Linked DNA regions of Homo sapiens. The protein of the gene in region 1 interacts with the protein of each later gene in a biochemical or structural test. Each region holds a gene or a part of one and is shown in the gene's direction. Other genes may lie near its edges.

Evidence for each region.
Region 2: the proteins of RC3H1 (region 1) and UBE2B form a complex in vitro, tested with the Homo sapiens proteins (one study listed by BioGRID).
Region 3: the proteins of RC3H1 (region 1) and UBE2G2 form a complex in vitro, tested with the Homo sapiens proteins (one study listed by BioGRID).

What each region holds. Positions count from the first base shown.
Region 1 is NC_000001.11:173,929,421-173,936,578, reverse strand, and holds the end of RC3H1 (roquin-1), read left to right. Parts: 3' UTR 1-5,495; downstream 5,496-7,158. UniProt on the Homo sapiens protein: Post-transcriptional repressor of mRNAs containing a conserved stem loop motif, called constitutive decay element (CDE), which is often located in the 3'-UTR, as in HMGXB3, ICOS, IER3, NFKBID, NFKBIZ, PPP1R10, TNF, TNFRSF4 and in many more mRNAs.
Region 2 is NC_000005.10:134,373,940-134,382,674, forward strand, and holds part of UBE2B (ubiquitin-conjugating enzyme E2 B), read left to right. Parts: intron 1-443; coding exon 444-524; intron 525-2,729; coding exon 2,730-2,755; intron 2,756-6,779; coding exon 6,780-6,869; intron 6,870-8,735. UniProt on the Homo sapiens protein: E2 ubiquitin-conjugating enzyme that accepts ubiquitin from the ubiquitin-activating enzyme E1 and transfers it to a E3 ubiquitin-protein ligase. In vitro catalyzes 'Lys-11'-, as well as 'Lys-48'- and 'Lys-63'-linked polyubiquitination.
Region 3 is NC_000021.9:44,766,974-44,771,449, reverse strand, and holds the end of UBE2G2 (ubiquitin-conjugating enzyme E2 G2), read left to right. Parts: coding exon 1-73; 3' UTR 74-2,870; downstream 2,871-4,476. UniProt on the Homo sapiens protein: Accepts ubiquitin from the E1 complex and catalyzes its covalent attachment to other proteins. In vitro catalyzes 'Lys-48'-linked polyubiquitination. Involved in endoplasmic reticulum-associated degradation (ERAD).

The sequences.
Region 1 (7,158 bases):
CATAACAGTAAAAGGCAACATTATTGGCCTCCAACCTTCTTTTTTTTTTTTTTTTTTTTTTTTTGGAGAGGGAGTCTGCTTCTGTTGCCCAGGCTGGAGTGCAGTGGGTTGATCTCGGCTCGCTACAACCTCCACCTCCCGGGTTCAAGCGATTCTCCTGCCTCAGCCTCCTGAGTAGCTGGGACTACAGGCACGCGCCACCACGTCCAGCTAATTTTTGTACTACAACCTTCTTATAAGCAGATTTGGACTGATCTTCTCCTTTGGGTATGTCAGATCATCCTAAATTTTAGAAGCAGTTGATTCACTTTGGAATTCAGAATGATTCTTGTATTAGAAGATAATTTGTGGGTATTAATTTTTGTTTAAGTTTAAAATAAAAGTAAAGATTCATTTTGGATATCAGTTGAAACCCCTTAGTAACTCAGTTTCTGTTATTCTTGTTCTCATTTCCTTTAAATACACTTGTTCTTGGCTTTTGCCATTTTGATTCTGTGAAGTAGGCAGGAGCAGGGATTAATTTATACAGTATTCCTGTTCTGAACAAAACCAGAAAAGTCACTGTATAAACTTGACTTAAAATAGTATCTTTCTCTTTTCATGTATTTTCATTTGGGGGAAAAAAAATCTCTTTAATTGTAACCTGAATTCAAGCTGTACCCCTCCATGGTCCTACACTCTAGAGCTAATCTGGTTGGGCAGAAAGGCAGAAGGATGGTATATTGTCCCATTGTGCCTATAATGTATTTTAAATTGGTCATTCCACCTTACCTAATGGAAATTCTTGCAGCTTTCCTAGTGCTCATCAGCGGTTTTAGGAATTCACTAACACCCCCAAAATTTGTTTTTTGTTTTTTGCTTTTTTTCCTTTTCCTTTTCTCTGTGATATCATGAGCCTGTAAGGACAAATGGCATATTTGGGCATAACTGCTTGACTCTGTAACTACTTTTTTAAAATCAAAATTGAAAAGGTATTAATTGCTTCTGGCTTTTTAATTTTTTTTTTTAGAGACAAAGATGAAACCAGATAGGAAATACAGTTTTTATGTTTTCTACTTACTAAAATATTAGTTTCTTCTAAATATTACTTTATTTGTATTTCACTAAATTCCAAAGCAAAAATCAGATATCTGAGATGAACAATTTTGAATGGGTTAAGGTAGGAGTAATAAGCATTGTGTTCACTCATACATAGGTGAGGGAATTTTATTTATAGCGAGAAATATAAAAGTATTTTGACTTACTCTTTTTTCAAGGAGTCGCTAGGAAAGGGTAGAAGAACTGAGAATAAGACATCTAGATTCCATTTCTGGTTTATATGTAGCTCTTTTGCCTAATTTATATATAATTTTGTCATAAGATAAGTCCAGTAACTGTCCTGTCTTAGATAACGTACAGAGGCTGAAGTGACCAAAGATCCATTCCTTATTACTTTTCTAATTAAAAGAAGAGTTAGCTAGATTTCTAGTAGTAGTATTCTAGATATTGATAAGACATTATTCCTAATGCCAACTACAAATATTCAACTACTCAGAATGTATTTAAAAAATTGTTTGGTACAGCATTAATGTTGGTGATTCCTTTCTCCCATCTTATTTCCCTTCCCTTCTATTCTTTCCCATGTATTTCTTTTGCCTAAAAGAATATTGGTATGATTCTCATTTGCTACTTTGAGTATATAACTCCATCAGACTTTCCAGAGTTCTTCAGGGATGGAGCTCAAAGTTTACATTTTTCCATATATGTCTTTTTTTTTCTTGACCTTTTTCCACCCTGTAATTTCCCCTTGACTTACCCACTGCCCTCCCCAATCTGCAACAGTGACAGTTTGCTGCCTCAAAACAGAGCATTCAAATGAATTCGCTTAGCCAATAACTTCTGTGAAGTTGCCTTTTCTAATGGTGTTATTACTCAGTGATGCACAAATGTGGTATTTGCCCTACTGGTAGGCAAACAAAGGTCTGGTTAAGAATGGTAACCTGCTGTTTTCTTTAAAGGAGAGCCAAAGACTTGTGCTTTACTCTGTTTTGGTTTTGGGGGAAGTAGTAGCCATTTTGATCATGAAACCTTTTAGTATTTGTGAGTTGATTGTACTGTGTAAGTAGATTTATCTAAAGTTAACTGTTAAAGTTAGCTAGCCTTATAAAATGTAAAAGTAATGAAAATTCATCAGTTTCTCTAAGCCAGTGAATGTCGTCTTTTGTAATATTGTGTATAAGCATTTGTGCCCACCCCAGCTTCTGCTATCACTGTGGTCAAGTCATGGGTCTGAGTAAAAGAATTCTTGAGTATGTGACTGGTGAGAAATAACTAACTATAGTCAGTACATGTACAGATTGTTAAAATTCAAGACAAAATACTTTCACTAAAAAAAAGGATTCGTCTCAGTAAAGAAGTATTCAGTTGCTGTCACTTACATACAAATGGTGGTGGGTAGCAGTCTCACCATTTTTCTACTCTCTTTTTGCTCGTTTTAAATAATTGAGTAAAGGTTTTATTTGTAAAATCTATCTGTAAAAAGCACCTGTAACGATTTATATGTCATTGAAAGGAATGGCCCAGTTACTTTTTAGGAGAGATTAATAACCTACCTGGAAATTAACTGCAGTGTTTACTTAGATTTTTTCCCCCTAATAAGAGTCTAAGTGTGTTAAATTTTTAACTGATGATATGGTTACAGTGTTGCAAGGTGATCTCTTCCCCTGAAAAATCTGCCTATCCTTTTAAGAAAAATTAGACCTACTAAACTAAAGCAAATTTTACTTTCATCATTAGCACCTAAACAAGCAAGCAGTCTACTACTGTCATCATTTTACCTGAGTGCCCATTTTGCTGATCCACATTCATACCTTTCTACCTTGGACAGCTATGATTTTTATATTTATTTGTTGCTTCAGCTCAGGTTTATGAAATTTTCCTGCTGAAATGACTTATTGGGAGTTGTAGGTTGATTATAGTTACTATTAAACATTTTCTCAATTTAGCTTTTCTGAGCCACTTCAAGAAGAAAGCTGTTTTTGTCAAAAGGTACTATTAATTGTAGCAAGTAAATCTTAAGATTTGAATTTTTAAGATTTTATTTCTGTGTTCACTAAAGATCTTTCCACAAGTAATAGATTATAATTGATAAGTAATACTAGCTATAGTGTTAATAAAGAGTAAGACTATCACCACCAGGAATAAGTAACACCTTTTAATAATAAATCTATTCCTAATAGGTATGTTTTCAATACTGCACTGAACAAAGTGGGTAAAGAGCCCTTTGAAATCTTATTGTAATAAAGGGACTTACCTCACCACTGGAATCCTTGTTTTCAGAGCCTCTGGATTTTCAGCCAAACACTGAATTTCTCCTAAACTTTATCCCTGAAACATCCCTAGAGAACGAACTTTATTTTCACAAGAAAATAAGGCACAATAAGGGGGAAGAACTTAAACCTCAACATAATATCGTGTCCAAAAATGTGTATTTAGAAAAATAAAATCCTGTGGAGTTTGTTATCCTAATGTTTATTTTATACTAGATAAGGTGACTTGTTTTCTTGTATTGAGGTCTTACTGTTTCAGATTTGTTTTTGTTTCTGTTCTAACTCTAAGCAGACAGAGCTCACAAGTCTTTGGCATCCATTTTAGGTTGTACACTCAGAGTCATCTTATAACTGGAAACTGTCAGGTGGTCCCCCACCCCAGTGAGTGTATGAAAGAGTCAAGAAAAAGATTGGAAACAAACTATTGGGTGAATAATTGGTTGCTCTATTATTATTATTATTATTATTTGCCTTTTTTTAATCACCATTTATTTGTGTAATCTTTCTCCATTGATTGGCTGTCATTCTTATAATATCTGAACTACCCCATAAAATAATTCTCTGACTTAAAGGCATTTAGCTTTTGCTTATCGTTTTTACATCCTCTATTCAACTAAGACACTGTCTTGAGAGTTATTTTTTCCAGATGGATCGTTGGCCTAAATTTTCACACTTCTCCCCTGTTCATCCTTTTTCCTCTTCCCTGCTTCCTGGGAATAAAAGGAACTTTTTTAAAAAAATTAATTAGTCCACAGGTCTCATTATCTTTCTTTATGATTAATCTATGACTTTTTGGTACAAGAACAATGGAAAAAGTGAATTAAGGTAATGAACAAAACCTTTCACCCACTTAAACATTTTCCAGTTTTGAGATTCCTCTTCGTGTTTGTGGTGTCTTCCCCTTGTTACCCCTTCTGCCCTTTTTCTCTGACTATGGTAATTTGGTCTTTAGGCTCATATCAGTCTCCCCGAGACATTCTGCAGTCATTATCACCTTTTTGGGTGGATTTTATTTTGTTTTATTTTGTTTTTTTTAAAAAAATAACTTTTTAACATTGGTGCATATTTGCTTGGGATAGAGCTTGTGTAATTTACCAATCGTATTGATTGTAAGTGATTGTGCCCTGCAGAGGTATATTTAACAAGACAAAAATAATCTTGGTTAATAAAGGAGCCCATGAGATTTGAGTCAGGTTGTAAGTGAAATCACTTACACTTTTGGATAGAATTTATACTCCTGCTCTTATAAATCAGTGGTAGACTTACCATTTTTTAAAGTTTTCTTGCATTTTTTTGTTTTTTTATTGCCACAGCTCCCTATTCTTTCTTGCCTGCCTCCACCCCCCTGTTCAGGAAAAAAAAAAATTGAGCCTTAAAGTGACAGCTGATTTTTTAATTGCTGAATTTTGTGAAATTTTACTTTTTCCAAGTGTTTCCAACTTTAAAAAGAGAAGTGAAGACAAATAGGTTGGAATGGTGAAGACAAATGGATTGGAATTTCACAGGCTGTGAATAATTCCTTAGGATCTGGCAAACCGTGAAGTCTTATTTGAAGACCTTATCTCCTGAGAGTTCTTTTGGAGTAGGAAAAAGAACCCTATTTGAAATAGACCGTTTTTCTCTTGTTTTTAATCTGTTTAATATTTCTGATTTTTAAGCAGCTTTCAAAACAAGTGTGGTGGAAAAAAAGAAATAGTAGTAGGAAGATGTTTAGGGCAGCAGAACTCTGGGTCTAAATAAGTACATGTTCCCACTTGTTGCCGATTTTTGAGAGTACTAGGGCCATCTTTCTCAATTTTGTATTATTTGTGTGCATGTTTATATCAAAGATGCCCATTTTGTTAAAATGCTATTTCCTTTATTACCTTGGAAACTGACTCAGCCTCATGTTGCTCCTAATTAGTGTTTAAGGCTCCCATGAGTTGCAGATAAAATGATTTATTTTAACAAGTAGAAGGAGGTGATTCACCTTTTGGATTGTAAATATATGAAAATGTCTACAAGGTCTTTATCTGCTTTCTGTCAGCATTTATATTAAATGATAAATTAATGAGGAACGTGTGTATTTTGTAAATGAGTGTGTGCCATCTTATTCTAATCTTGAGATTACTTTCTTACACGTTTTTAATGGAGGGGGCTTTTTTAGGTGAAAAATAAAGAAATGGCTAATCTGCATGAGCAAACACATACTTGGAGTAGCCAATTTTGTGTGGACATCACAGGAATTAGTCCAATCTTAAATAAGCTACAGTCATATTCCTTCATTTGTCACACAGTGATTGCACATTAGGAGTGAGGGTAGTGGTTCTGAGATACTAGCATCAATTCAATGAGATTCAATGGCTAACATCCAGTGTCTCGGTTTTTATGGCGCTTCTGAAAATTAGGACCATCTTTATGCTTAAGTGAAAAGGACTTGTCATGGTAACTTCCTGATGCAAAATGTTTTTTTGTCTTTCCATTTTTTTTTTTTTTTTTTGAGATGGTGTCTTGCTCTGTTGTCCAGGCTGGAGTGCAGGGGCACAATCTCAGCTCACTGCAGCCTCTGCCTCCCCAGTTCAAGCAATTCTCTTGCCTCAGCCTCCCAAGTAGCTGAGAATATAGGCCTGCGCCACCATGCCCAGCTAATTTTTACATTTTTAGTAGAGATGGGGTTTCACCATGTTGGCCAGGCTGGTCTCAAACTCCTGATGTCAAGCGATCTGCCCGCCTCAGCCTCCCAAAGTGCTGGGATTACAGGCATGAGCCACTATGCCCAGCCTTGTCTTCCCATTCTTGCTGACTTCTGATTGTCCTGAAATCCCCACCCATTAGTCATTCCTCGAAGTTAGTGGATATAAGTAAGTTTGTCTAATAGAGACCATACGTTAGTCAACACCTCAATGGCATGAAGAAGAAAAGGGAGGAGGTTGGGTGTGGTGGCTCGTGTGTGTAGTCCCAGCTACTCAGGAGGCTGAGGCGGGAGGATTGCTAAAGTCCAGGAGATCAAAGCTACAATGAGCTATGATGCTTGATCGCACCACTACACCAGCCTGGGCAATGGAATGAGACTCTATTATTCTAGATTAAAAGAAATGTAAGAAGTACAAAAATCAAATGCAGCATAGGTGATTTTAGCAAACCAAATACACAAAAGACTTTTGTATACAGGAAAATTTGATTAAGTATTGGGCATTAGATGATACCAAGGAATGGCATTTTCGTTCATTGTGAAACATGATTATGTAAAAAATCCATTTTTTTAATAAAGATGGATAACACAATAGCTGCAATTTCCTTTAAAGTAGGAACTAAATATTTTTAAAAAGTAAATAATGCAGCCACGCACGGTGGCTCACACCTTGTAATCCCAGCACTTTGGGAGGCCGAGGCAGGCAGATCACCTGAGGCCAGGAGTTTGAGACCAGCCTGGCCAACATGATGAAACCCCATCTCTACTAAAAAAAAAAAAAAAAAAAAAAAAAAATTAGCCGGGCATGGTGGTGGCCACCTGTAATCCCAGCTGCTCGGGAGGCTGAGGCAGGAAAATCGCTTGAACTCGGGAGGTAGAAGTTGCGGTGAGCTAACACCACTGCACCCCAGCCTGGGCAACAAAGAGTGAAACTCCGTCTCCAAAAAAAAAAAAAATCAATAATGCACATTACCAGTGAAGGTTATTTACTTCTCCTACCAACAATTAGCGATTAGGTGTCCATTGGTATATCTGACCTCAAGGGAAGGGACCATAGTAAAGAAAGCTTAGGGTATGAGGAGTGGTAACTGCTGCAGCCATCCCTGAATGATTATAAATTCTGGACTGGGAATTACAAAACTAGCCCTGTCATCTTAATCACCTACCTAGGCCTACCCT
Region 2 (8,735 bases), on another chromosome or scaffold:
AACATACGTGTGCATGTGTCTTTATAGCAGCATGATTTATATTCCTTTGGGTATATACCCAGTAATGGGATGGCTGGGTCAAATGGTATTTCTAGTTCTAGATCCCTGAGGAATCGCCATACTGTCTTCCACAATGGTTGAACTAGTTTACAGTCCCACCAACAGTGTAAAAGTGTTCCTATGCATCAATTCTTGAAGAGATAATATTGAAAGAGGGATGATTCTCAAGCCCTTTCAATTTTTAGATAATTTGGAGAGGTATTTAATAAGTATATATACCTGGTTAATATATTTAAGTCATATGGTTCATTTTAGTTCACAATAACAAGGAAATGGAGTTAGTCTGTGTCTCAAAATAGATGGTATAGTGTCTGTAGGTGTTTACGTGGCCTCCTTAGTGGCCTTAATGTTCAACTTTTTAAATTACCACGCTGGATTTCCAGGTTACAAGAGGACCCACCTGTGGGTGTCAGTGGCGCACCATCTGAAAACAACATCATGCAGTGGAATGCAGTTATATTTGGGTGAGTTGAAAGGTTTAACAAATAATAGGTGTGTGCTGAATCTTTAAGAAAAGTAAACATATAACAACTGTCTAGGAAAAGAAACTGAGGTGGAATGAGAGATCTTAAGGACTAAAACTGCAAGATAAATTAGAAAAAAAAAATATTTCAATTAGAGTTTTGGCCCAGCACAGTAGTAGCTCAACGCCTGGGAGGATCGCTGGAGCCCAGGAGTTCACCAGCCTGGGCGATATAGTGAGACAGTGAGACTCTGTCCCCTCCCCACCAAAAAAAGTTTTGGCCCAGTCTGGGCAACATAGTGAGCCCTTGTCTCTACAAAAAGTATAAAACTAGCTGAGCATGGTGGTGCATACCTGTGGTCCCAGCTACTTGGAAGGCTGAGGCAGGAGGATCACTTGAGCCCAGAAGTTTGAGGCTGCAGTGTGCCATGATTGTGCCACTGCCCTCCAACATGGGCAGCCAGCAGAGCCAAGATCCTGTATCAAAAAAAAAAAGGAAAAAGTTTCAGCAGTTATATAAAGTTTATTTGCTCTTTGATGTTATTACATATGGTTTTATAATCTCTTGGGGTTTTACTTTTAAAATACTATTCAAAACTAAATGGAATGGAATAATAAAGGAGAAACAATAAGTTACTTTATATAAAACATATCACGCAAATGCTCTCATTCTGTTGGAGCTGTTAAAAGGTTTGGAACCAAAAATATTAAGAACTTCCACTGTGGCAAGAATTTAAGCGAAAATGATTCACAGCCCAGTGTGAAATAACAGAATGCAGCCATTTGAGAAGCAGTTGTAAATTTTACCTACTATGTATATTGCGTATATGCTTTTTAATTTAAAATTTCCTTATGCTTTTTCTTTGGTTTTTCTAGACTTGATCTATTTTTTCTTTCATTCCTTTGAAACTAGAGTTTTGCATTAAAAAGTAAAAGGAGTATGTTGATAAACAGAATTCTGACACTACAGAATCAGCTACAAGAGTCTACATTTAAAGACTAGTGGAAAATGAGTGAAGTTCATCCTCATAAAGTACTTCTGAATTTGAGTTGAATACATGGCACCTTCAGGATATTATCCTGCTGCTTTGAGATCCTGAATATGCCTTGCAAGTAATAATTAAACTTTATGCTCCATCCTGGCTAACACGGTGAAACCCCGTCTCTACTGAAAATACAAAAAAAAATTAGCCGGGCGAGGTGGCGGGCGCCTGTAGTCCCAGCTACTCGGGAGGCTGAGGCAGGAGAATGGCGTGAACCCCAGGGGGCGGAGGCTGCAGTGAGCCGAGATTGCGCCACTGCACTCCAGCCTGGGCGACAGCGAGACTCCGTCTCAAAAAAAAAAAAAAAAAAAAAAAAAAAAACTTTATGCTGCTGCTTAGGAAAGATGAAATTGGGATGTGGGGACAAGGATCTGAGCAAACAAATCTGGCTTTTTGGTGACAACTATGCTTAGCCTATTTGAACAAGAGTTATGGCTCCATTGGAAAGCAGGACACTTGGGTTTAGCATCATAACTAGAGTATTGCTTTACATCATATTGCTGTAAAATGAAAAGATGTCTTTTCCTCTTAAGAATATACATATGGGCCAGGTGCGGTGGCTCACGCCTCTAAATCCCAGCACTTTGGGAGGCTGCGATGAGTGGATCACCTGAGGTCAGGAGTTCGAAACCAGCCTGGCCAATATGGTGAAACCCCGTTTCTACTAAAAATACAAAAATTAGCCAGGCATCTGTAATCCCACCTACTCGGGAGGTTGAGGTAGGAGAATCACTTGAATCCAGGAGAAGGAGGTTGCAGTGAGCTGAGATCATGCCATTGCACTCCAGCCTGGGGGACAAGAGCAAAACTCCGTCTCAAAAAAAAAAAAAAAAAAAAAAAAAAATATATATATATATATACACATATGTACAAAATGACTGGTCAGTATTAATGAAAGTTTTTTTGTGCTAAAATTATGGGCAAGTTTTTTTGTTTGGTTTGGTAAAACCACCCTAAAAAGAAAGCTTAGAATGAAAGTTAATACTTTATGCCTGGGTCTATGAAAATCCAGGGCTAAGGTGTTACTAAACTCTATCTTAAAACTCCACAAATCATCAGAATGAGTCCCTCTTTTTCTGTTGAAGTTTATCCTTTCCATTCTTGAAAATCAAGAAAAAGCAGAATGAGAAACTTCTTTTAATCAGAAATCTTCTTGTTTTCAGACCAGAAGGGACACCTTTTGAAGATGGTAAGTCATACTCATTATGTTTTCTATAGTGTTATGAGGTTACTTTTTAGTAGAAAATTGTAACACCAACATATCTACTTGAAGCCATTTTCTATGGTTAATAGGCCAAGTTAAAAGTAAAGCTATGGAAAATTTATACTTCATAAGGGACTTCTTCCCACAGCAGCTTGGTCACCTCCATTGGTAACCAATATTAAAGGTTACTTTAATATTTTCCTGTATAACTGTAAGCCTGGATGGCAGTGTTTATGTTGAGAATAGTTTAAATTTAGGTGGCCTTAAAGATATCTCTGAGGTGAACACCAGAAGAGTAAATCATGCTTTTTTACTTTGTTATCTTTGATATTGACAGGGTGTTGAGCTGAAATTTTTCATAAACATACATAGCTGCCAGTAGTTTCAAGTACTACTAGCATTTAACACCCATAAGTAGTTATCATTTTGCATAATCTTTGGCATCTCAAGTTGGGTATTTTCATCAGGGGCTAGGAAAATGGGAAACTAGTTCTAATACCGAATTTATAATTGAACTTATCAAACTGATTTTAACCAGGAACTTAGACTTTTCCCAATTGTAGTGTTGGATTTTAAGAAATTATTAAACATCTTTGTTATCATTAACAAAATGACTTCAGAATTAATCCATCAAAAATATTTATCCGAGAATACTGACTGCAGCAGTTTGTAAGGACGTAACCTGAATGTCCAGTAGGAGAAATGGTTAAGCAAATTATGATGTATCTGGATTCTGGAATATGTACCTGTTAAAGAATAAGGTAGATTTGGACATACTGTCTTAAGAGGACAAAAAAACTGCACGATAATGTTTGTCGTAGCATCACATTTTTAGCAAATACATATATGCATGTGTGTCTATGTTAAAGGGTTATATATCAAACTGTTACCAGTGATTATCTGTGGGGGGGGTAAGGAGTTGAAGGAGGTACTTAAGGACGTTACCTTTTTTCTCTACATCAAGGGTTCTCAAGTGTGTGATCCATAAACCCCTTGGGGTCTTGGAGACCCTCTCGGGGGACCCATACGATCAAATCTCATCATACTAAGACTGTTGACCTTTGCATTGATGGTACAAAACCAATGGTGGCTATAACTACACCTAAGTAGTTTCGTATCTTAGAACAAATCAAGGCATTAGACAGTGGCACCAAACCATACTAATAGTGATTATATTCTTTGCATTTTAAAAGATGCCAGTTGGCCAGGGGCAGTAGCTCACACCTGTATAGCCAGCACTTTGGGAGGCTTAGGCAGGTGGATCATGGATCACTTGAGCCCAGGAGTTTGAGACCAGCCTGGGGGAGCCCTTCTCTACAAAAAATTAGCCAGGCATGGTGGTACATGCCTTTAGTCCCAGCTACTTGGGAGGATTACCTGAGCCCAAGAGGTCAAGGCTGCAGTGAGCCCTGGTGGAGCCACTGAGCTCCAGCCTGGGTGACAGAGTGAGACCTTGTCTTTAAAAAAGTTACCAATTTTTCTTAATTTCTTAATTTAAAGACATTTTTATTAGTATTAGGAAGCTCTGGACCCTTGAGTATCTATGTGGGTTTTTTTTGTTTGTTTTTTGTTTTTTGTCTCGCTCTCTCACCCAGGCTGGAGTGCAGAGGCGCAATCTTGGCTCACTGAAGCCTCCGCCTCCGAGGTTCAAGTGATTCTCGTGCCTCAGCCTTCCAAGTAGCTGGGATTACAGACATGTGCTACCATGCCCGGCTAATTTTTGTATTTTTAGTAGAGATGGGGTTTCACCATGTTGGCCAGGCTGGGGCCTTAAACTCCTGACCTCAGGTGATCTGCCCACCTTGGCCACCCGAAGTGCTGAGGCATGAGCCACACCCAGCCGAGTATCTGTCTTTTTAATATTCTGTATGATATGAAGTAGAATGTATGAACAAAGCACTTCTGCATGTCATAGTATGATAGTTGTCTGGAAGAAAAGCACTTCTACAGTTGTTTGAGTTGCAATTTGAATGACTTTTTTTCATGGAACATTTTTTACTTGAAAATACAGACAAGCTGTGGTTATTCAGGTTTGAATATATGGCAGACATATTCTCAGAAGTAATGTAATAAGCTCGGTGTGGTGGCGGGCACCTGTAATCCCAGCTACTCGGGAGACTGAGGCAGGAGAATTGCTTGAACCTGGGAGGCAGAGGTTGCAGTGCGCCAAGATCGCACCATTGCACCCTAGCCTGGACAACAGAGCAAGACTCCATCTCAAAAAAAAAAAAAAAAAACAGTGGGGGGATCTAAGTGGGTTGTTAGGTTAAGGATAGCAACTGAAGATATTTGTTGCTGTTGATAAAATAACAGCTTCCTGATACTTACTTTTTGATGAGATTAGTGGGTAGTGTTACCTGTTGTGATTTTTTTGATAGTATATAATGGAATATGGCAACATTTGGAGGATCTGTAAACTCGAGTCACCCAATATTTTGCAGATGTCCCATGAATAATAATACAAAACCATGAATGGGTAAAACACGTATGTGAAGTGAACAGATTTTAATGTAACTGAGTACAAAAAGTTGACTAATAATTTCAGATTCTATATTGCAGCAAACCTTTAAAAGAACTACCATTTCTTCTTTGGTATAATATCAAAACAGAATAGCTACAGTCACCTGAAAAAGCTATTCAAATACTACTTTTTTTGCTGGGTGCAGTGGTTCATGCCTGTAATCCCAGCACTTTGGGAGGCCAAGGTGGGCAGATCACCTGAGGTCAGGAGTTCAAGACCAGCCTGGCCAACATGGTGAAACGTCGTCTCTACTAAAAATACAAAAATGAGCCAGGCGGGATGGCACGTGCCTGTAATCTCAGCTACCCCAGAGGCTGAGGCAGGAGAATTGCTTGAACCCAGGAGACGGAGGCTGCAGTAAGCTGAGATGGTGCCATTGCACTCCAGCCTGGGCAACAGTGAGACTCTGTCTCAACAAAAAAAAAAAAAAAAAAGGAAGAAAGAAAGAAAGTACTCCTTTTTTCAAGTACATATTTGTGTGAGGCCAGATTTTCTTCATGTACTTAAACTAAACGGTATTGTAATAGATGGAGTGCAGAAGCAGATAAGAGAATCCAGCTATCTTCTGTTAAGCCAGTCATTAAAGAGACAGTTGCAAATATGTAAAACATTGCTTACACTTATCACCAACTTGGGGAGAAATATAATTTTAATTTATATTCTGTGTAATGGGTTTGCAGTTTAACCTACCTTTTTTTTTTGGAGACAGAGTCTTGCTCTTGTCACCCAGACTAGAGTGCAATGGCGCGATCTCTGCTCACAGCAACCTCCGCCTCCCAGGTTCAAGCAATTCTCTTGCCTCACCCTCCTGAGTAGCTGAGATTACAGGCACCCCCATACCCAGCTCATTTTTGTACTTTTAGTAGAGGTGGAGTTTGACCACGTTGGCCAGGCTAGTCTCAACTCCTGACCTCAGGTGATCCGCCCACCTTAGCCTCCCAAAGTGCTGGAATTACAGGCGTGAGCCACCCCACCTGGCTACAGTTATTTTTAATGAAGATTTTCTGAGTTAAAGTTTTTTTGTGTGTGTGAGACGGAGTCTTGCTTTGTCACCCATGCCAGAGCATAGCGGCATGATCTGGGCTCACTGCAACCTCCACCTCCTGGGAGGGTCCTTTGCCATGTGGTAGTCAGACCCTCTCAAAATCCTTTAACCAACTCCCATTCTAAGCTATAATAAACTATTTGTAGTTCTTCAAATATGCATTTTAAATCTTGGTAGCTAGGGCCTAGTTGCCTTCCAAAAATATGACAGTTAACACTCCCACCAATAGCAACATGAATGTGCTTGTTCCCCAACCGCTTGCCAATGCTGCGTGTTACCATTCTAACATAAATAGAGTATATTTAGGATGTTTTGTATGCCGAACCAACGTTGACATACTAACTTTTATGTGGTTGTACAAAAACCAGTATGCAGTTGAGAACTGATGAAGAGATTAAAAAGTCGTGCTTGTCTTTACTATAATTATTTTGTTTTCTCTCTAGGTACTTTTAAACTAGTAATAGAATTTTCTGAAGAATATCCAAATAAACCACCAACTGTTAGGTTTTTATCCAAAATGTTTCATCCAAATGGTAAGTAGCATTTTATAGATTTTGCAGATGATAGTGGGGAAAAGAGTTGTTTCCCTCCTTTTAGCTCTTTCACCTTACTTTTTACTGTTAGGGCTCACTTGTAGGTGTTGCTTCCATGTCCATGTGAGCCACGTATTTTGTTGTGGATTTTTTTTTTTTTTTTTTTTTTTTTTTTTGAGACGGAGTCTCGCTCTGTCGCCCAGGCTGGAGTGCAGTGGCGCGATCTCGGCTCACTGCAAGCTCCGCCTCCCGGGTTCACGCCATTCTCCTGCCTCAGCCTTGTGAGTAGCTGGGACTACAGGCGTCCACCACCACGCCTGGCTAATTTTTTATATTTTTAGTAGAGACGGGGTTTCACCATGTTAGCCAGGATGGTCTCGATCTCCTGACCTTGTGATCTGCCCACCTTGGCCTCCCAAAGTGCTGGGTTTGTTGTGGATTTTTGGTTTGTTTCTTATTTCTTCAGAGACAAAGTTATACTCTGTCACCCCTGCTGGAGTGCAGTGGTACAGTCACAGTTCACTGTTACCTCAAACTCCTGGGTTCAAGTAATCCTCCTGCCTCAGACTCCTAACTAGCTGGGACGACAGGTGTGGACCACCATGCCCAGCTAATTTTTTTGTTTGTTTTCTTTTTCTTTTTTGTAGACACAAAGTCTCTGTGTGTTGCCCAGGCTGGTCCTTGAACTCCTAGCCTCAAGCAGTCCTCCCACTTTGACCTCCCAAAGCACTGTGATTACAGGAATGGGCCATTTTTTCCAGCCTTTAGCTATGTTTCTGTAGCTAGACTCTTACAAAGCTTCCAAATTTGAGGTCAAGTTGTTTTAATAACTCCTGAATTAAAAGTAATACATGGTCGGGCATGGTGGCTCATACCTATAAACTCAGCACTTTGGGAGGCCAAGGTGGGCGGATCACCTGAGGTCAGGAGTTTGAGACCAGCCCGGCCAACATGGTGAAACCCCATCACTACTAAAAATACAAAAATTAGTCAGGCATGATGGTGGGCACCTGTAATCTCAGCTACTCAGGAGGCTGAGACAGGAGAATCACTTGAACCTGGGAGACGGAGGTTGCAGTGAGCTGAGCTCACAACACTGCACTTCAGCCTGGGTGACAAACCAAGACTCTGTCTCCAAAAAAACAAAGGTAATATGTAAGCCAGGCACAGTGGTGCACACCTGTAGTCCCAGCTACTCCAGAGGCTAAGGCAGGAGGGTGGCTTGAGGCCAGCCTAGGTAACATAGTAAGATCCTGTCTCTACTAAAAGAAATAGATAAAAGTATTATCTATTTATTTGTGGAATTGTGAAAAATAAGAAAAATCTGTTGGCTAAAATTAAGCTTTTCAAAAATACAATTTTGGCCAGGCGTGGTGGTTCATACCTATAATCCCAGCACCTTGGGAGGCCAAGGTGGGAAGGTTGCTTGAGACCAGGAGTCAGAGACCAGCCTGGGCAACATAGCGAGGTCCCATCCCTATAAAAAACAAAAAAAATATCAAGGCATGGTGGCGCACACCTGTAGTCTCAGCTACTTATGGAGGCTGAGGTGAGAGGATCACTTGAGCCCAGGAGGTCAAGGCTGCAGTGAGCCATGACTGTGCCACTGCACTCTAGCCTGGGCAACAGAGCAAGATTCTATCTCAAAAGTACAATTTTGCATATACAAAGTTGGAGTCAATGACCACACACAGTGGTTCATGCCTATTAATTCCAGCACTTTGGAAGGCTGAGGAGGGTGGATTGCTTGAGCCCAGGAGTTCAAGACCAGCTTAGGCAACATGGTGAAACCCTGTCTCTACAAAAAATACAAAAATTAGCTGGGCACAGTGGTGCGTACCTGTATTCCCAGCTACTAGGGAGGCC
Region 3 (4,476 bases), on another chromosome or scaffold:
AATGTGGCGCGATGACCGGGAGCAGTTCTATAAGATTGCCAAGCAGATCGTCCAGAAGTCTCTGGGACTGTGAGACCTGGCCTCGCACAGGCGCGCACACACCGCCAAGCAGCTCAGCATTCTCCCCCGGCACACTTAGTGACAGTGATGCTCTGTGCTGGTACCAAACAAGGCAGACTTGCAAGAACCATGGCATCTTTTTTTTTTTTCAAACCTTTCCTACTTCAAACAGGCTTCTCTTCTGAAATGATGACTTAATGTCGAATATTGACAGCTTACTGCAGTTTTACAGTATTCCTCACAAAGGGCTTCAGGTAGATTATCAGAGCTGTCAGCACTACCTCTCCCCGCTGAAACCAGCAGTTCATGGCTTCCTGTGGATTCCCTCCCTCCCTGGAGTGTTGAGGGGGTTGTACCTGCCAGACTTCCAGGGGACGATGGAATACCCAGAACGCTCCTTCTGAAGAAATGGGGCCCTGTAGCTGCAGCACAGGGGAAGGGCCCGGCACCCTTTCTGGGTCCTTCCTGGTTCCCTGTGGGCCCCATGAGGAGTCCATTACTTCCTTTCTTCCTTCATATTTTACAGGCAGATGCTTTTCTTATAATCTAATTACATCTTTTCATTTGTTATATATTACAAACCATCACACTTAGAAATACTTCCAGGAAATGCTTTTTTGAAGTGTGAATTAATAAGAAATGGGGTAAATAGAAAAGAAATTTATTGCTGATTGGCCAGGTGCGGTGGTTCGTGCCTGTAATCCCAGCTCTTTGGGAGGCCAAGGCAGGTAGATCACAAGGTCAGGAAATTGAGACCATCCTGGCTAATACAGTGAAACCCCATGTCTGCTAAAATTACAAAAAATTAGCTGGGCGTGGTGGTGCACGCCTGTAGTCTCAGCTACTCAGGAGGCTGAGGCAGGAGAATCGCTTGAACCCGGGAGGCAGAGGTAGCAGTGAGCTGAAGTCCCGCCACTGCACTCCAGCCTGGGCAACAGAGCGAGACTCAGTCTCAAAAAGAAAAAAGAAATTTATTGCTGATCACAAGGACAGACAGTTTTTTCCCGACCATACTCATCAAAGATTTACGTTTGTATATTAGTAACTAGTGCATTACTAGAGCAGGTGCAGGTGAGGTCTTTAAAGTTTCAATGAAAGTTTCTTCTGGATCTACAGAAAAAATTTTTTTTTTTCAATCTAAAAACTGGAAATTCTAGGGTTTTTGTACATTTTGGATGCACTGGGAATTTATTAGCACAAAATCATTCTTTGCAACTCAAAATTCAGAAGGGACTCTACCATATCTTAGCTCAGAGCACAGAGGAGTGCCTTATCCCCACACTTGACTGGGCTGTGGAGGTGGGCATGTGGGCCCCTGGGCCCAGGCTGGGGACAGAGCCCTTGTTTTGTGACTTAGGATTTTGATGTGGTTCCCATGTTCTCTAACAGGGCCAGCTGAGCAGCACAGGCCAGGAGGCCACAGTGTAAGCAATAACAGATCTGCCACATGCAGAAGCAAATATCAGGCCTGTCGCACACGGGCGGCATTTAAATAGGAATTTCTATTTTTGAAATAAGGGATGGTCTATGAGGCATACAGTAGATTTGATGTGATCCTTTTCTCCCTCCCTTCCATAATGGATCGTGGTCTGTGTGACTGAACCCACACAGAGTGTCATGGGTGACAGTTTCTGGTTGAAGTAGCTCCACGCCTGGCTTCTGTGGACAGCAGATTCTTTTCCTTCTCACAAGGGGCTCATTTAAAATTTGGAGGCTGGGTGCTGTGGCTCACGCCTGCAATCCCAGCACTTTGGGAGACTGAGGCGGGCGGATCATGAGGTCAGGAGATCGCGACCATCCTGGCTAACAGTGAAACCCTGTCTCCACTAAAAATACAAAAAATTAGCCGGGCGTGGTGGCGGGCGCCTGTAGTCCCAGCTACTCTGAAGACTGAGGCAGGAGAATGGCGTGAACCCAGGAGGCGGAGCTTGCAGTGAGCTGAGATCACGCCACTGCACTCCAGCCTGGGCAACAGAGTGAGACTCTGTCTCAAAAAAAAAAAAAAAAAAAATGGAACGCAGGGCAAGAACTCGTATTTGGAAGGAGATGGGGGAAAGGAGCGGTATTATACCTATGTTGTATTTGCAGGCAAATGAGATGGAGCCCTCTCTGTAAAGAAGAGTCATTTGTGCAAGTAGACGGGGTCTGTGGGTGCAGGCCCTGGAGGGGCACACAATTGCCTGGAGGCTTCTGTGAGATCGGGAGAGGGAGGAGAGGCAGTCTCTTGACAAAATAAAGTATTTTTATTCATTTGTATTTATTAAATGAAAAAACAATCCCATGGTGTCCCTGTTGTGTGGTGGAACCTAATGACTGTTGAAATAAAGTTCTGTGTTTTCCCTGCCCTGCAGTGTGTGTCCCTTTGTCGTATTGTCAGAGGAGCCTGTGGCCACTGCCCCCAGGGAGCACACCAGATCATCCCAGCTGGGATTCCTCACGGTGGGGGCTTTTCTGCAGACTTGGGTTAGCTCTGGCATGTTTTCTTCTGTTTCTGATCTCCCTTCTGTCATTCTGTGGTCTTCCTCTGGAATTCTCAGGTTAGTTGGGGTCTGTGAGACGGATGTGTTCACTAACCTATAAATGACATTTTGCAGCTTTTTCAGCAGATGCCATTGTGTGAGTGGCACATTTGACCACTAGAAGCCAGCAGGCTGTTCCGACTGCGCTTCCCTCCTGCAGTTGCTTAGAAGCACAGCTCCCTGTCATCACTCCTCTGTGGTCCTCTGTGGTCACGGTTGGTTGCGATGAGACCTGCCTCTGCGTCTTGTTACTTAGCATGTCAATAAAGAGGCAGATTCCTGTGTCAGTGATTTGCTGTTTCTGTTTTGGTAGTTGGCGGTCAGCTTTCCTTTGTAATCCTGTGAGGCAGGGTCCCCAGGCTTCCCCAGGTGCTGGCGCCTCGTTCCCTGGGCTGGTTCCCAGGCTGCTCCTGGTGGGGTGCACTGGGCGAGTGCCTCAGCACAGGCCCCCAGGCATGTCTGTTCTGCCCTTTGCCCAGTGTTCTCACTAAGCATTCTTTTTAATGGGTAAGAACTCTAATGTGATACTGAGTTGGGGTCCCCAAGACCACCCAGGGCGGCGATTCTCCAGGAGGACAGAGGCCATGCAGGTCACGGTAGTCACGGCTGTGATTTCCCACAGGGAGGACACTGAGCAAAATCGGCCAAGGGAAAGGTTCCTGGGGCCGAGTCCAGGGGCACCATGCTCAGCTTTGGAGGCCTCTCCTGGGGTGGGGGTCACGCAGGATGCGCCTCACTCCCCTGCAAGCAGCTGGGACTCTGCGTGTGCGATGTTGGGGATGCCCTGCCTGGTGATGTACCCGGGGGCTGGTCACGTGAGCAGCTTCTGCCTGGGCTGCGCTACAATTCCAGACTCTCAGCAGGGATGTGAGTGTTCTGCCTAAACCACCTTGTACAAATAGCACAGGCCCAGTGAGGCGGGGTTCAGGGAGCCCCTCGGAAATCCCAGTTCCCAGACGCCAGCCAAGGGCCAGCCCGGCCAGCGGGCCTCAGGACGGCCGTCCCCACTGTATGGACCCTTTCTGCGCAGATAACCTTGGGGGTTGACAGTGATTTTTACCATTTCATTTGCTCTGTGTTTCTGGGTTTTGTCTGCTGGCACTGGTTTGCCACAGTTGTTTGCCTGTCTGGCTGAGTGCCGTCCTTGCTTTTCCCATGCAACTGTCTGCTTCCTGGGATGGGGAGGGCTGCTGGGGTGGCCAGGGAAGCTCTAGGGTCTCATCTTCTGGGTGTTGGGGCTTTTCACCCTTCCTGGGGGTTAGCGGCCCCAGTTCACTGCTTGGGCCACAGCAAGGGTGGCGTCCACAGCTCTGACTCTCACTTCTGGGATTGCTGCACCTGCTGGGGCTTCTCCAGTCCAGTCTCTGTGTAGATGAGGTTGCTAATTTTTCAGAGGAGTGCTGTTCTGTACCAGTTTCTTCATAGGATATGGAACTGCTCCAGCTGCACAGAAAGGCACCCCAGGGCAGCCCCAGCTTCCCTCCCCTGGGCGTGCCTTGCACCGTGGCCCCCTGAGCTGACAAGGTTTCTGCAGGCTGGAATTTGTGCTGGAGGCGAGGGCCCTGGGGATGCTACCTGGACACAAGGAGGGGACAGGAAACAGGTACAAAAATTCGGGGCTGCCAAGGGGCAGTGAACACACTAAGGACAGGTGGATTCTGGAAACCCTGCCCTGGAGGGGACCGCGGGGCCGCTTGGGGTGGGGGCAGGGTTTGGAGAGGGGCTGTGAACAAAGCCAGCCCCTCTGGGTGTTGGCCTGGGGCCTGGACCCTGGGCTGGGGGGGGCACCCTGGGAGGAGGTCTCGTCGTGCTGATGTGGCGTGGTGGCCCCATCTGGGAGGGAATGCTGTTGGGCCCAGGTCCTGGCTGAGCCCTGTGGAAGCTGGAGGTGTTCAGC